Regions from separate parts of the Homo sapiens genome. Here region 1 is linked to region 2. A link means that fine-mapping ties the variant in region 2 to the expression of a gene that starts in the linked region. Tissue or cell type: blood mononuclear cells. Region 2 holds a variant in brackets; the other region holds the start of a gene. All regions are shown on one strand. Distances are from middle to middle.

What was found. PIP is the estimated chance that this variant, and not a neighbour inherited with it, causes the effect.
Region 1: it holds the start of SLC2A11, and the variant in region 2 is fine-mapped to the expression of SLC2A11 in blood mononuclear cells (TOPMed, PIP above 0.99).

Annotation. Positions count from the first base shown.
Region 1 is chr22:23,854,088-23,862,184 of GRCh38, reverse strand. It overlaps SLC2A11 (solute carrier family 2 member 11), which reads right to left and starts at 4,310. Exons shown (of 12, transcript NM_001024939.4): 1 at 4,156-4,310; 2 at 1-81. The coding sequence starts at 4,185.
Region 2 is chr22:23,878,510-23,886,609 of GRCh38, reverse strand. It overlaps SLC2A11 (solute carrier family 2 member 11), which reads right to left. Exons shown (of 12, transcript NM_001024939.4): 7 at 3,964-4,151; 8 at 3,741-3,851; 9 at 2,737-2,838; 10 at 2,586-2,661; 11 at 2,181-2,308; 12 at 298-1,961. The coding sequence ends at 1,761. It also overlaps the pseudogene RN7SL268P. Among named protein-coding and RNA genes, the nearest start is that of MIF, 12 kb to the left of the region's middle. The variant C/T (reference allele first, on the strand shown) is at 3,823.

The DNA of each region.
Region 1 (8,097 bases), 24 kb after region 2:
GATAGAGAGGTTATAGCCAAACTGAAAAGTCCCACCAATGCCGGCAGCGCAGATGGTCAGGAGCAGGATCCTGCCCTGAATCTGAGGAGAGAGGAGAGAACACAGAGTGACCAACAACAGCCTCCACCCCCTCCCTGGACCAGAGCTGCCAATCACAGCATTGCAATTTATTTGAATCAGGCAGTGATGTCTCCACTTTGCAGATGAGGAAAGTGAGGCACAGAGAGGAGTTACCTGGGTCACATGGCTGGCAGGTAGCAGAGGAACCCAAGCCTCCTGTTCTGAGTCCAGGACCCCACTTTACCCTCACCCCACCCATAGCCCCAACATTTCCCTGAGCTGGAGAGCGGTTCCCATCCCTCCTTGTTGGGCTGCCCCTGAGCACGTCTGCTGTGTTTGGGGAAGACAGTCCCCTGAGCTGGGGCCCCAGTAGAGTAAGGCTCTGCCTCCAGCAGGACAGGAGCCTCTGACTTGCCCCAGGAAAACCTTCTCCAACAGAGTGGCCAGGCTCCAGGAATCTGGGCTGAGCCACCTCTCTTACCTCCCACCAGCATGTTCTGCAATGAGGCTAAGAGAAGATGCCACATGGACCTGCAGGTGCAAGGACTTGGGGACATATGAGTAGTAGAGAGGCAGCATAAATGGCCCAGGTGCCTGGTCCCTATCCCAGCTCTCCCCTTCCTTTCTCATCCTAAGTGACTTCCTTACCTGGACCTGCAGATAATGAAGCCTACTTCTAGGCTGGGTACCCATGAGTCATGCACACTTGGTACACAAAAGGACAGTGAAACACCCTTAGAGATGGAGGGAGAATTCCCCAAGGCATCCCTGATGCCTCATCCTTTGTAGTTGGGATAGTTGGGATTTTCTTTTTTTTTTTTTTTTTTTTTTTTTGAGACTGAGTCTTGGCCTGGCGCAGTGGCTCACACCTGTAATCCCAGCACTTTGGGAGGCCGAGGCGGGTGGATCACAATGTCAGAAGTTTAAGACCAACCTGGCCAAGATGGTGAAACCCCATCTCTACTAAAAACACAAAAATTGGCCGGGCGCAGTGGCTCATGCCTGTAATCCCAGCACTTTGGGAGGCCGAGGCGGGCGGATCACGAGGTCAGGAGATTGAGACCATCCTGGCTAACACGGTGAAATCCCGCCTCTACTAAAAATACAAAAAATTAGCCAGGCGTGGTGGCGGGCACCTGTAGACCCAGCTACTGGGGAGGCTGAGGCAGGAGAATGGTGTGAACCCGGGAGGCGGAGCTAGCAGTGAGCCGAGATAGCGCCACTGCACTCCAGCCTGGGCGACAGAGCGAGACTCCGTCTCAAAAAAAAAAAAAAATTAGCTGGGCGTGTTGGCAGGCGTCTGTAATCCCAGCTACTCGGGAGGCTGAGGCAGAGAACTGCTTGAACCCAGGAGGTGGAGGTTGAGTGAGACTCCGTCTCAAAAAAAAAAAAGAGACGGAGTTTTGCTCTGCCGCCCAGGCTGGAGTGCAATGGCGCAATCTTGGCTCACTGCAATCTCCGCCTCCCAGTTCAAGCGATTCTCCTGCCTCAGCCTCCCGAGTAGCTGGGATTGCAGGCATGCACCACCACACCCAGCTAATTTTTGTATTTTTAGTAGAGACTCCTGACCTCAAGTGATCTGCCCACCTCAGCCTCCAAATTGCTGAGATTACAGACGTGAGCCACCGCACCCGACCTGTAGTTGAGGTCGTCTTAGGGATTCACAGAAGTATTTATCTTTCTCCTTTGGTGATTTTCTGTTTTGTTTTTTGAGACAAGGTCTCATTTTGTCACCCAGGCTGGAGTGCAGTGTCGCAATCTTGATTCACTGCAGCCTCAACCTCCTGGGCTCAAGCGATCCTCCCACCTCAGCCCCCCAAGTAGCTGGGACTACAGGCACACACCATCATGCTGGGCTAATTTTTTTGTAGAGATGGGATTTCACCATATTGCCCAGGCTGGTTTCAAACTCCTGAGCTCAAGCGATACACTCGCCTTGGCCTCCCAAAGTGGTAGGATTACAGGCGTGAGCCACCATACCCAGCCCACTCTTTTGTGATTTTTAATTACAAAATGACACGTTTGTTAAGATTTTTGAAAATTCAGTATATACTGAAAGTTCTCCACTCCTCCAAAGGCACAACAATTAACTCCTTCCCTCAGGTATTTTCCTAGATATTTGCAAAGTAGTTGACTTTACAAAAATTGAATCGTTGATATCTTCCCCCAAAAAATACTGCCTTTCTTGTTCTGGCAAATTGTTCTGTAGAATTAAATGTATTATTTTTGAAAACTTTGATACAATTTTCATGACAGAAGGATGTTTGGCTAAGGTTTTCTGAAGTTTCCAGAACCTACGGACTATTTATTCATTTATTAGTCAAATACTGAGTGTTGGCCGGATGTCGTGGCCCACACCTGCAATCCCTGCACTTTGGGAGGCCGAGGTGGGCAGACCACTTGAGGTCAGGAGTTCGAGACCAGCCTGGCCAACATGGTAAAACCCTGTCTCTACTAAAAATACAAAAATTAGCCGGGCTTGGTGGTGGGCACCTGTAATCCCAGCTACTCAGAAGGCTGAGGCAGAATTGCTTGAATCCGGGAGGGAGGCGGAGGTTGCAGTAAGCCCAGATCGCGCCACTGCCCTCCTGCCTGGGCAACAGAGTGAGACTCCATCTCAAAAAAAAAAAAATGCTGAATGTTTATCTCAGCCAGGAAGTGTGCTGGGGGGCAAGATACAGCTGGGAAAGAGACAGCTGTGCTTTCACCATTCAGTGAGATACTGCACTGGAGGCTGGGGGAGCAGAGGAAGTGGCTCTGGAGGGCAGAATCCTGCTGAAGGCCTTGCCATAGGTCTGGAGACAGGTTGGTGACAGGGGCCCTGGCTGCCCATAGTTCCAATAAGGCCTAAGTAACTTTCTCTAAGGCTGGAAGCCTTAGGAAGAAGCCAGGTGAGAAACCTGGCATCTGGTCCCATTGAGGCCAAATTACAGCTCCACGGGGGCCGCATGGAAGTGAGAGCTCCCTTAAGACAGCAGATGTGAAGGAAGCAGCGAACACAGTGCTTGATGGCAGCTGAGCTCATGTAGCAGGAGATATTGACAGGTCTCTAAGACTACAGGAAATCGTTGAATTCAATGAGATCATGCATGGAGATTGCCTATACCGTGCCTGGTCATGGTAAGCATTCAGACATTAGCTACGATAGGGACCATTAATTCAGCAAACAAAGATTTATTGCCTCCCTATTATGGTCAATAATCCTACTGTTCTAGGTGTTGGGATACAGCAGTGAACAACAGACAAAATCCATGAGCTGTCAGAGCTTTCCTTCCAGCAGAGAAAGACAAGCAATCGCAAAATGAACAAGCAAAATATATAGTACATCAGCTGGTGCTACAGAGACTTAAAGCAGTGAAGGGGCGTAGGAAGTGTTTGGACCAGGTGGTGCTATTTTATTTTATTTTATTTTATTTTTATTTTTTAGAGACAAGGTCTCGCTACGTCGCCCACGCTGGAGTGCAGTGGTGAGATCCTATTAGATCCCTGCAGCTTCGAACTCCTGGGCGATCCTCCCACCTTAGTTGGTGCTATTTTAAATAAGGCTGTCAAGGAATACAAGTGCAAATCAAGACAAAGGAGGTGAGGGAATGTGCCATGCAAATACCTAAAGAAATCAGTCCAGATTGGGAAGGAACCCCTAGAAGCGGTGGGCAGTGCAGTGCGGGCGCTCTCCTCTGGCTGCGCCCTTTCCCTCTGTGAGGCAGGACGTCAGGTCAGAGCTGAGGGAGCATGAGGAGGAAAGAGGCGGGGGTGGGAAACAGTCTCGGGAGGGGGCGAGCAGTCAGGATTGCAGCGCTCGGAGGGCTTACTGCCTCTGAGGTCAGGGCTGATCGGCAGAGGATTTAGCATCTCTGGGGGCTGGGATGCCAGGGTCCAGCAACCTTGCTCTGGCCCACAGGCCGACCCTGGGCGTAAACACCTGCCTATGCACATCTGAGCCTAGCACCTAACGCCACTGTACATACAAGCACGATATTTTTGAACATTTGACGACTTAGTTAAGCCTCCCAGGTGGCTGCACCTGCGCAGTTCACTCAGGTCCGCAATCCCTCATCTGAAACGCCTGGTCTGGGCAAGTATGAGAATTCATACCATTCTAGATCGCAGGAGGGCGTGGAGCATTCGAAAGAGGGGCCTGAGCGGAGGTCTTGCTGTCCCAGGGAGACCCCGGCTGCCATTAGCAAGCGGTGAGCCGGCAGCCTGTGCGCGGAGGGAAGGGCAGCGCGCAGCGCCCAGTGGTGAAAGAGGCGCTAGCGCACGCGCAGTGAGCGTTTGAGAGGAGCAAACCCGTCGAGACGAAGCTGTAGCGCAAGCGCAGTGGGTATTGAGAGCGGCCGCACCAGCTGAGGGTTCGCGCAACGCTAAACGATGGCCGGGACTAAGGCCTGAGACTCAAGCTCAGGCGCAGTGAAGCGCAGAGCCGCTAGAGTGTCGCGGAGGGCGCCTGAGGCGCATGCGCGGACTCAGCGTTTTTAAGAAGGGCTGGGGGTGCTGGGGAGTTCGCCCCAGCGTGTTGGGGGGGAGTCGCCGCCGCGGGGGGGGGGTTTGGGGTCACCGCCGCGGGGTTTGTCGCCGCCGCTGGGAGCTCACCTGCGTCCGAGGCCGTAAGGACGGCTCCAGTTCATCCTCCATCCGCCTCTGCCGCAGCACTGAGGCTGAAAAGCCGCTCACTCCTTACTCGGCTAAGCCCCAAGCTCATCTCTGCAGGCCGGAAGGGAGCTCTGGTCCAAGGTCATCTCGGCCAAGCCCCTGCATTCGCCCTCGCAAGTGCCAGCAAGCGACTCTGGTCGCCGCGCTCCCAAGTCCTCCCCCGAAATTCCGGCTCTGGCCCCTCGTCCCCCTCCTTTGCTACAGTCTCTGGACTAAATGTCTGCGGGTCTCTGTCTCTCGCTGGTCTGACCTCAGCCGCAACCCTGCGCGATTCCCTGCGCCGGTCGCCACTGCCGGCCGCCAGAACCTCGGAGGCCACTGCCCCTGGGCGTTCTCCGGAGGGCCAAGCCCTTGGTTGTGCACATCTATGCACGCCCCACCTACACCCCCCCCCCCCCACACACACACACTTTGGTTCAGGTATCCCCGACCTTTCCCCAGAGGACGGGAAAATTAGGAAAGACCGAAAGATAGACCCACCAGTCTTCGGAGCGCTCTCATCTGTGCGTCCTGGGCAGAGCGAGAGACTTGGCGGAATGCGGGTAGGAGAACCGGTCTCGGGTTGCCGCCAGGGGATCCATTGCGTGAGAGGCAGGTCCGACTTATGCTGGGGGCACTTGGAGTTGAGGAACCACAGAGTCCACTGAACCGGATTAATCTTTTATCCCTCAGGGCTTCTCAGGCCCTGCATGGAGGAATCCAGGAGCTGGACAAAGACCAACTGAAACTAGACTTGCCAAAGATGCTATTTGTGGTCACAGAAACATAGAGCTGGACATGACCTTAAGAAGTCACCTGAGCAGACACTGTGATGGGCACTGTAGTAGCTCTATTGCTCAGACTTGGTTTTTGTTTGACTTTTGCTGCTCTGAACTTTAATTCCTAAAAACACTGCATTTTTAAGGAAAAACACAAAATATTAGCAGTTATAATAAATAGGTATTTTATTGCATGCTTTTCGTGCATCTATTAAGATGATCATATGGGTATTCTCCTTTAATCTGTTAATGAGATCAGTTACATCAATAAACTTTCTAATGGTAAACCATTCTTGAATTCTTGGGGTAGACGCAACTTGGTCATAATATTATTGTTATTAATACATTGTTAGTTTCAACTGCTGATATTTTATTTTGATAGGTTAATTTTTTTCTTTTTTTTTTTTAATTTATTTATTTTTTTTTTATTGATCATTCTTGGGTGTTTCTCGCAGAGGGGGATTTGGCAGGGTCATAGGACAATAGTGGAGGGAAGGTCAGCAGATAAACAAGTGAACAAAGGTCTCTGGTTTTCCTAGGCAGAGGACCCTGCGGCCTTGGCCTTCCGCAGTGTTTGTGTCCCTGGGTACTTAAGATTAGGGAGTGGTGATGACTCTTAACGAGCATGCTGCCTTCAAGCATCTGTTTAACAAAGCACATCTTGCACCGCCCTTAATCCATTTAACCCTGAGTGGACACAGCACATGTTTCAGAGAGCACAGGGTTGGGGATAAGGTCACAGATCAACAGGATCCCAAGGCAGAAGAATTTTTCTTAGTACAGAACAAAATGAAAAGTCTCCCATGTCTACTTCTATCCACAGAGACCCGGCAACCATCCGATTTCTCAATTTTTTCCCCACCCTTCCCGCCTTTCTATTCCACAAAACCGCCATTGTCATCATGGCCCATCCCCAATGAGCCGCTGGGCACACCTCCCAGACGGGGTCGTGGCCGGGCAGAGGGGCTCCTCACTTCCCAGTAGGGGCGGCCGGGCAGAAGCGCCCCTCACCTCCCGGATGGGGCGGCTGGCCGGGCGGGGGGCTGACCCCCCCACCACCCTCCCGGACGGGGCGGCTGGCCAGGCAGAGGGGCTCCTCACTTCCCAGTAGGGACGGCCGGGCAGAGGCGCCCCTCACCTCCTGGATAGGGCGGCTGGCTGGGCGGGGGGCTGTCCCCCCCACCTCCCTCCCGGACGGGGCGGCTGGCCGGGCAGAGGGGTCCTCACTTCCCAGTAGGGGCGGCCGGGCAGAGGCGCCCCTCACCTCCCGGACGGGGCGGCCGGCCGGAAGGGGGGCTGACCCCCCCCACCTCCCTCCCGGACGGGGCGGCTGGCCGACCCCCCCCCCCCCACCCCGCCTCCCTCCCGGACGGGGCGGCTGGCCGGGCAGAGGGGCTCCTCACTTTCCAGTAGGGGCGGCCGGGCAGAGGCGCCCCTCACCTCCCGGACGGGGCGACTGGCCAGGCGGGGGGCTGATCCCCCCACCTCCCTCCCGGACGGGGCGGCTGGCCAGGCGGGGGGCTGACCCCCCCCACCTCCCTCCCGGACGGGGCGGCTGGCCGGGCAGGGGGCTGACCCCCCCTCCCCCCTCCCGGACGGGGCGGCTGGCCGGGCAGGGGGCTGACCCCCCCACCTCCCTCCCGGATGGGGCGGCTGGCCAGGTGGGGGGATGACCCCCCCACCTCCCTCCCGGGCGGGGCGGCTGGCCGGGCAGAGGGGCTCCTCACTTCCCAGTAGGGGCGGCCGGGCAGAGGCGCCCCTCACCTCCCGGATGGGGCGGCTGGCCAGGCGGGGGGCTGATCCCCCCACCTCCCTCCCAGACGGGGCGGCTGGCCGGGCGGGGGGCTGACCCCCCACCTCCCTCCCGGACTGGGCGGCTGGCCGGGCGGGGGGCTGACCCCCCCACCTCCCTCCTGGACGGGGCGTCTGGCCGGGCAGAGGGGCTCCTCACTTCCCAGTAGGGGCGGCCGGGCAGAGGAGCCCCTCACCTCCAGGACGGGGCGGCTGGCCGGGCGGGGGGCTGACCCCCCCCACCTCCCTCCCGGACGGGGTGGCTGCTGGGCGGAGACGCTCCTCACTTCCCAGACGGGGTGGTTGCCGGACGGAGGGGCTCCTCACTTCTCAGACGGGGCGGTTGCCAGGCAGAGGGTTTCCTCACTTCTCAGACGGAGCAGCCGGGCAGAGACGCTCCCCACCTCCCAGACAGGGCTGCGGCCCAGCAGAGGCGCTCCTCACATCCCAGACAGGGCGGCGGGGCAGAGGTGCTCCCCACATCTCAGACGATGGGCGGCCGGGCAGAGACGCTCCTCACTTCCTAGATGGGATGGCGGCGGGGAAGAGGCGCTCCTCGCTTCCCAGATGGGATGGCGGCCGGGCAGAGACGCTCCTCACTTTCCAGACTGGGCAGCCAGGCAGAGGGGCTCCTCACATCCCAGACGATGGGTGGCCAAGCAGAGACGCTCCTCACTTCCCATACGGGGTGGCGGCCGGGCAGAGGCTGCAATCTCGGCTCTCCGGGAGGCCAAGGCAGGCGGCTGGGAGGTGGTTGCAGCGAGCCGAGATCACGCCACTGCACTCCAGCCTGGGCACCATTGAGCACTGAGTGAACGAGACTCCATCTGCAATC
Region 2 (8,100 bases):
GAGGGCAGAGCCTGCATGAATGGGATTGGTGCCCTTATAAAAGAGACCCCAGAGAGCTCCCTTGCCCCTTCTGCCATGTCTAGGAGAACACAGCAAGAAGACCGCCATCTATGAATCAAGACATGGGCCCTCAACAGACACTGAATCCACTGGCACCTTGATCTTGGACTTCCCAGCCTCCAGAACCATGAAAAATAAATTTCTGTTGTTTATAAGCCACCCAGGCTGTGGTTCTTAGTTATAGCAGCCCGACGGACTAAGACACAAAAGAAATAAAAACATATGTTTAGACAATTATTATTGTAGGAACATTCACAGCAGTTTTATTCATGATGGCCAAGAATTAGAAACAGCCAAAATGTTCACCAACAGGTAGATGGATAAATAAATCATGGTCTAACCACAGAGGGGAATACTACTCAGCAATACAAAGGAGTCTCTCCTAATACGTGCAACAACATTCATGAATCCCAAAAACTTTATCTGGAGCCAAGCCAGACACAAATGTGTACATACAGTACGGAATGACTTCAGATTCTGAAAAAAGGCAAATCTGACCAATTGAGGCAGAAAGCAGGTCAGTGGTTCCCCAGGTCTGGGACTGGGGTGGGTTACTGATAGCAAATGGGCATGTGGGTGCCTTGGGGTAGGGTAAAGGTTCCATCTTGATCACGGTGGTGTTTCCCAAGTGTATACACTCACCAAAACTATACTTAGAACTCAAAACTCGCCAAATATATACTTAAAATGGATGCAGTTGGTTATGTATAAATTATACCTCAATAAAGTTGATTAAAAACATCAATTCCTCAGAAAATTCTTTTCTGACCACTCCCCTCTCAGACGAGGTCGGGCCTCCTGGTATGCATACCCATACCCACTACAACCTGTATTTATTTTTTTTGAAACATGGTCTCTTTCTGTTGTCCAGGCTGGAGTGCAGTGGCTCAATTAGGACTCACTGCAGCCTCGACCTCCCAGGCTCAAGTGATCCTCCCATTTCAGCCTCCTGAGTAGCTGGGACCACAGGCATGTACCACCACACCCAGCTAATTTTTTTTTTTTTTTTTTTTGGTAGAAACAGGATCTTACTATGTGGCCCAGGCTGGTCTCAAACTTCTGGTCTCAAAGCAATCTTCCCATCTTGGCCTCCCAAAGTGCTGGGATTACAGGCATCAGCCACCTCACCTGGCCAACCTGTATTTTTCTTTCACTGCATTTCCTGAGTCTGTAATTATTATTATTATGTTTTAAAGAGATGAAGTCTCCCTCTGTCACCCAGTCTGGCATGCAGTGGTGTGATTGTAGCTTACTGCTACCTTGAACTCTTGGACTCAAGTGATCCTGCTGCCTCAGCCTCCTGAGTAGCTAGAGCTGTTAGCACATACCACCATGCCCAGCTAATGTTTAAAATTTTTTGTAGAGATAGGGGGTCTCACTATGTTACCTAGGCTGGTTTCAAACTCTGGCCTCAATTGATCCTCCCACCTTGGCCTCCCAAAGTGCTGGGATTACAGTCATGAGCTGCCACAACCAGCCTGTAATTATGTTGTTACTGATTTTCTGTCAGTTAATTACCTTTAGCCTGGAATACCACGCTCACCATTGATTGCTAAGCACCTGGAGCCATGTCTGCACACAAAGGGTGCTCAATAAACACTCCTTAAATGAGGAATGCAGGAGGGAGTGAGGACCAGGGCCCTGGCAGGAAGCAGAGGACAGGACAGTAGCTGGCTTTGGCTCTGGCCACCCCTTTGGGACTAGAGTTCTGTTGACTGGATAACCTCCAGGCTCCTCCACGTGGGGCCCTGGGCCCGCCTGGGGAAGTTGAGTCTGTGTAATTCCTTGGAGATCTCTTGGAAGGTCTTGCCTTTGGTCTCAGGAAGGAACAGGCCAGTGTAGATGGCCCCACAGACACAGACACCAAGGAAAGGGACATAGAGGAAGTGGGACAAGGCCTCCTGCGGATTAAAAAAGACCCCAAGACCTGGTGTGTCTCCATCAACCCCTAAACAGAAGGCCCATGACAGGTCGTGAGGAGGCATTTGCCCCCCTCTTTGCTCCCCTAAGACCCCTCCCTTTCAGTCTCAGTCTCCCTGGATGGAAGCCTCCCCCTGGGGTTCTCAGGATGACAGGGACACAGCCTAAGGCAGGGCCCCCAGCGGGAGGGGCGGGCCTACCATGATAAAGGGAAATCCCAGGCCGACCAGGATGAGCATGATCCACATGAGCGCCCCGCAGACCATGCAGGCAGCAGGCCTGGCCATCTGGTCAAACAGCTCTGTGGCCAGGATCCCCGTCACTCCGGCTAGAAGGAGGGGCAGGGACAGGGGGCTGCTGGCCAGGGTTCCCTGCCTGCCTCTCCCCGACCCCAGCCCAGACATGGGAGTGGGAGCCCAGGCCCAGTCTGTATGGGGGGCCCCTCAGTGCTCTCCTCCTGCCATTCCCTCCCAGAAGCCCCGGCATGAGGTGGTCTCTGAGGGCCTGCAGGGGACATTGCATTCACACCCACCCACTGTGCACCCAGGCACCCATCACTCCTTCTATGTGATGATGGATGCCCAGAGCCCCTTGGGCCCACTCACCAGGGCCAATGCCAAAGCTGAGGATGAAGGCAAAGATGCAGGCCATGGCCAGGTAGAGTGTCCAGGGGAAGGAGCTCTGCCGTGGACGGGGCGGGGGTGAGGTGGAAGTCAGCCCGGCCTGGACCCCCCAGCCCTCATCCACCCCAGCTACCTGCAGGCACAGGGCCACAGTGAAGATGCTCCCCCAGCAGGTCATCAGGCTGTACCCACCGATGAGCAGCACGCGCCGACCCACCCTCTCGATTACCACACACTGCAAAGGCAGAAAGCACAGACCCACACACCCAGCCATGGTCCCTGAGGTCTGGGGCAGGCAATGGGAAGGGGTCTCCTGAGAAAGCTGGTGGTGGAGGTGAGGGTAGTTTATTGCTTCAGTGTGACTTTATTAATTTCCCAAAGGAACTTGGTCAATCAATCACCCAACTTCAGCCAGTTTCCGCATCTCAAAATGGTGCTGGAAGTGACCCGCAAACCGTAGATGCTCAATAGATGCTCTCTAACTCACTGCATTGATTGATTGATTGAGACAGGGTCTTACTGGTCTCACTGAGCTGAGACAGGGTCTCACTGGTCCAGCCCACGCTGGAGTGCAGTGGCACAATCTCGGTTTACTGCAGTCTCAACCTCCTAGGCTCAAGTGATCCTCCCACCTCAGCCTCGCCAGTAGCTAGCACTACAGGCGAAGACCACCACGCCTGGCTAATTTTTGTATTTTTTGTAGAGACGGGGTTTCACCATGTTGCCCAGGCTGGTCTCCAACTCCTGATCCCACCTCAGCACTATTGCCTGGGCTGGAGTGCAATGGCACCATCTCGGCTCACTGCAACCTCCACCTACTGGGTTCATGCGATTCTCCTGCCTCAGCCTCCCAAGTACCTGGGATTACAGGCGCCCGCCACCACGCCGGGATAATTTTTTGTATTTTTTAGTAGAGACGGGGGTTTCACTGTGTTGGCCAGGCTGGTCTCGAACTCCTGACCTTGTGATCCACCCACCTCGGCCTCCCAAAGTGCTGGGCTTACAGGCATGAGCCACCGCACCTGGCCCCTCACTGCATTTTAACACCATAAGCTGGAGTGTAAACTGGTTTAATGCAGAGGACCTGGGGGTCCCTCCCCACAGGGCTGGTGGAGGAAGGGCACCCTCCAGACTCACACTAACAACCGCCGTGAGCAGCTCGCAGCTCCCAGTCCCGATGATCGCGTACTGGATCTTCGCTTCCGGCACTCCTGCCTTC[C/T]GGAACACGGAGGAGGCGTAGGCGTACACCTGGGAGAGGGTGGCTTTCAGGCCTGGGCTCCCTTCCACCTCCCATGGCTCCCAGCGGCCTGCAACACCAAGCCCCCGGGGCCCAGGGTGTGCGGCGGGGCAGGGGTCTCACCGAGTCATTCCCGCAGAGCTCCATGGCACTGCCCAGAACCACGAGGCTTGTCACCTGTCTCCTCAGGGCCCGATGCTGGAACAGCTCCCATGGGCGCCGGGCACGGCAGCCCTGGCAGGCAGCGCGCTCCTCCTCCAGCTCCTCCAGCTCCCCTGCCAAGTCCCCGGAGCCCCGGAGCCGCCGTAGTGCTGAGCCAGGGAGGAGGGTACTGAGCTCCCCGTCCCCAAGCCCCTCTTTGGTCCCCCTACAGGGACGCCCCCCTCCATCCCACCATTCCTTTCCTTCTTGGCTCACTCTCTGTCTCTGAGTCTGTCTGTGTGTGTGTGTGTCTCTCTCTCTGCCTCTGTCTCTCTCAATCTCTCTGTCTCTGTGTGTGTCTCTGTGTGTGTGTGTGTTTCTCTCTCTGCCTCTCAATCTCTCTGTCTCTGTGTCTGTGTGTGTGTGTGTGTTTCTCTCTCTCTCTGCCTCTGTCTCTCTCAATCTCTCTGTCTCTGTGTCTGTGTGTGTGTGTTTCTCTCTCTCTCTGCCTGTCTTTCTCAATCTCTCTGTCTCTGTGTGTGTCTCTGTGTGTGTGTGTGTTTCTCTCTCTGCCTCTCAATCTCTCTGTCTCTGTGTCTGTGTGTGTGTTTCTCTCTCTCTCTGCCTCTGTCTCTCTCAATCTCTCTGTCTCTGTGTGTGTGTGTGTGTGTGTGTTTCTCTCTCTCTCTGCCTCTGTCTCTCTCAATCTCTCTGTCTCTGTGTCTGTGTGTGTGTGTGTTTCTCTCTCTCTGCCTCTGTCTCTCTCAATCTCTCTGTCTCTGTGTCTGTGTGTGTGTGTGTTTCTCTCTCTCTCTGCCTCTGTCTCTCTCAATCTCTCTGTCTCTGTGTCTGTCTGTGTGTGTGTGTGTTTCTCTCTCTCTGCCTCTGTCTCTCTCAATCTCTCTGTCTCTGTTTGCCTCCCTGGTCAGATGGAGATGATCTTCCTTGCCCTGACATTTCTCAGGGCTGTTGCGGTGTTGCCACCATGGATGAAAAAAGGCTTTAGAAAGAAACGCAGGGTTCTGCGGACATATCAGACAGGACATGACTATTGCAGCACATTATCAAACCCAATTCTTCACCCCTCCCTGCACCCACACTGCTTGCTGTGTGATTTTGCAGTTCCTCCCACTAAAGGGGCAAGTACTGCCTACATCCCTGCTCCTGGCTCTGGGCTCGGCCAATAGGATGAGGCTGCAGTGAGGGCGTACCATGTTCCAGCCTAAGCCTTAAGAGGCCTTGCTCACTTCTACTTGCTCTTCTGCCTTCATGAGAACATTCCAGGCTAGCCAGGAGGATGACAAGACATGGACAGCCAAAGGGGCCCAGCTAAGCCACCCTCACTGGGACTATTCTAGATCAGCCAGCCAATGCCCAGCTGAGCTGCAGTTGCAGGAATGACCAAGATCAGCAGAGCCATCAGCCAGAACCATCCTAGATCAGCCCAGCCCAGAGGACTTAGAGGCTTAGGCTAAATAATTGCTTTTTTTGTTTCTTTACCACCGAGATGTTATGATCATCTATTAGTCAGCAATAGAAAGCTGATCAATAAATTGGCACCAGGAGTTGGTGCTACCGTAACAAAGACCTGTGAAATATGGTATCAGTTCCAAGACGAGGCAGAGGACGGCGATGAGGCTGGAGAAATGAAAAGCTATGTTATATAGTGCAGTAACACGGAAGAAAGAAAATGGGCTCAGTGAACTTATGGACTTGAGCAAAGAAAACTCCAAATGTTGAAAGCATGAACTGGTTGCTGTTAGATGCATATTCTAAGCTTGCTGTAAGACATGAAGAATTAGCTCAGAAAATAACTGGCCAGTTTGCAAGCAGAATTCAGAGGCAACAAAATTTAATTAAACGTAGCATATTTCAGAAACACTGGGTTAGTTGAAAACAACAACAAAAAATGTTTTCTCGCCTCTATCCTCTCCAGCTAGCAAAAGAATCCCAAATTAAGTAACAGCCTGTGAGCAAAGATCAAATCCAGAGCACTGCCAGGAAGCCATGGACTCATAGTAAAGATCAAATCAAGGGTATAGCTTAAAGCAGTGCCTCACAGACCCTCACAACTAGAAAAGGGGGCATTTAGGAGGCTTGAGGGCGTTGATTCACGGTAGCCTGACATACCCTAAATACCAGCAATTAGGCCTTGGGAGAGAAGCCTGTCTCAAAAATAATTGTGAGCGTGGTTTGTTGACACATGAAAAAACCTCGAATACATAGAAAATTCACATCATTTTTGAGAAAGTTGTATTGGCAAAAGCTCTGCCAGTTTGGACAAAAAAAAGACCAGGACAATTTGAAATATAAAGACTTCTGTGCCCCAACTTTGTTTTCTTTTCTTTTCTTTTTTTTTTTTTTTTTTTTGAGATGGAGTCTCACTCTGTCACCAGGCTGGAGTGCAGTGTGCACTGGCACAATCTTGGCTCACTGCAACCTCCGCCTCTCGGGTTCAAGCAATTCTCCTGCCACTGCAACCTCCGCCTCTCGGGTTCAAGCAATTCTCCTGCCTCAGCCTCCCTAGTAGCTGGGACTACAGGTACGTGCCACCATACCCAGCTAATTTTTGTATTGTTAGTAGAGATGGGGTTTCACCATGTTGGCCAGGCTGGTCTTGATGTCTTGACCTCGTGATCTGCCCGCCTCAGCCTCCCTGGGATTACAGGCGTGAGCTGGCGCCCAGCCTGCCCCAACTCTCTATAGGCAGGAAGGAGGCTGAGAAATTTGCTCAACCATCAAAAGCAGCACATTGTGCAACGCCCTCTTCAGAAGGAATCAAGGAAGGTGAAAGAAAAGGAAAAACATCTCAGAGGGTAGACCCAAGAAGCATGGAGAGCCACGCATAGTGGTGTGTGCCTAGAGTCCCAGCTACTCAGGAGGCTGAGACAGGAGGATCGCCTGGGCCCAGGAGCTCTGGGTTGTAGTACGCTAGGCAGATCAGGTGTCTGCACTAAGTTCAGCATCAATATAGTGACATCCCAGGAGCAGGGACCACCAGGCTGCCTAAGGAGGAATGCACTGGCCCAGGTTGGAAATGGGACAGTTCAAAACTCCCATGCTAGCCAGATACAATGGCTCATGCCTATAATCCACGCACTTTGGGAGGCCAAGGGGGGAGGATCATTTGATCTCAGGAGTTTGAGACCTGCCCAGGCAAAGAGGTGAAACTCCATCTTTACAAAAAATACAATAATAAAAAAAAATTAGCCAAGCGTGGTGGCACGGGCCAGTAGTCCCAGCTACTCAGGAGGCTGAGGTGGGAGAATTGATTGGGCCTGGGAGGTGGAGGTTGCAGTGAGCTGAGATCACACCACTCCAGCCTGGGCGACAGAGTGAGACCCTGTCCCAAACAAAACCAAAAAAACAAGAACAAAAAAGAAGAAAACTTCCGTGCTGATCAACAATGGCGTCATGCCTATGAACAGCCACAGCACTCCAGCCTGGACAAGCGAGAACCTGTCTCTAAAAGATAAAAAAAATAAAAAAAATAAAAGAACCATGGCCTGGGGTGCCCTTCATAGGGGGTAGGGGACAGAGCTGGAACTTGAACAAAGAATACTCCCTACCCCCAAGGCAGGGGACATGGCCATATTTTCCTAGGGGCGCTTCAGAATTGTTATAGATTAGTGACTGCACTGTGCCTGCCTTGCTTCCTCGTTTTTGAAATGAGAGCATTAATTTTGGTTACCTCATCTTACTTTTTACCATTGCATGCTGAGTGTGGGAAGGGAAGAAGACTCATCTTTCTAGATCCTAGGTTTCTGGATCAAGAAAAGGCCCATATAGACTTAATGTGGCGTAAGATCTGGGACTTCAAGCCCGATGCCATGATTGGATGAGACTTTGGGGGATCCTGGGATGGGACTGAACACATTTTGCACAGAGGAGAGACATAAGTAATAATTGCGGCCATGGTGACAGAGAAGAGTACACTAATGGGCCCCGGTCTTCACCCCTCCTTAAATCCACAGCCCTTGCGATGGGAGAGGATATGCCATCAATTTTCCCATCCCTTGACTTGGGATTTGGCAGTATGACTGACTCGCTTTGGCCAATGGAATGTTAATGGCACGAGGGAACCAAAGGTTTGGAAAGCGCTTATGCAACTGGATTTGC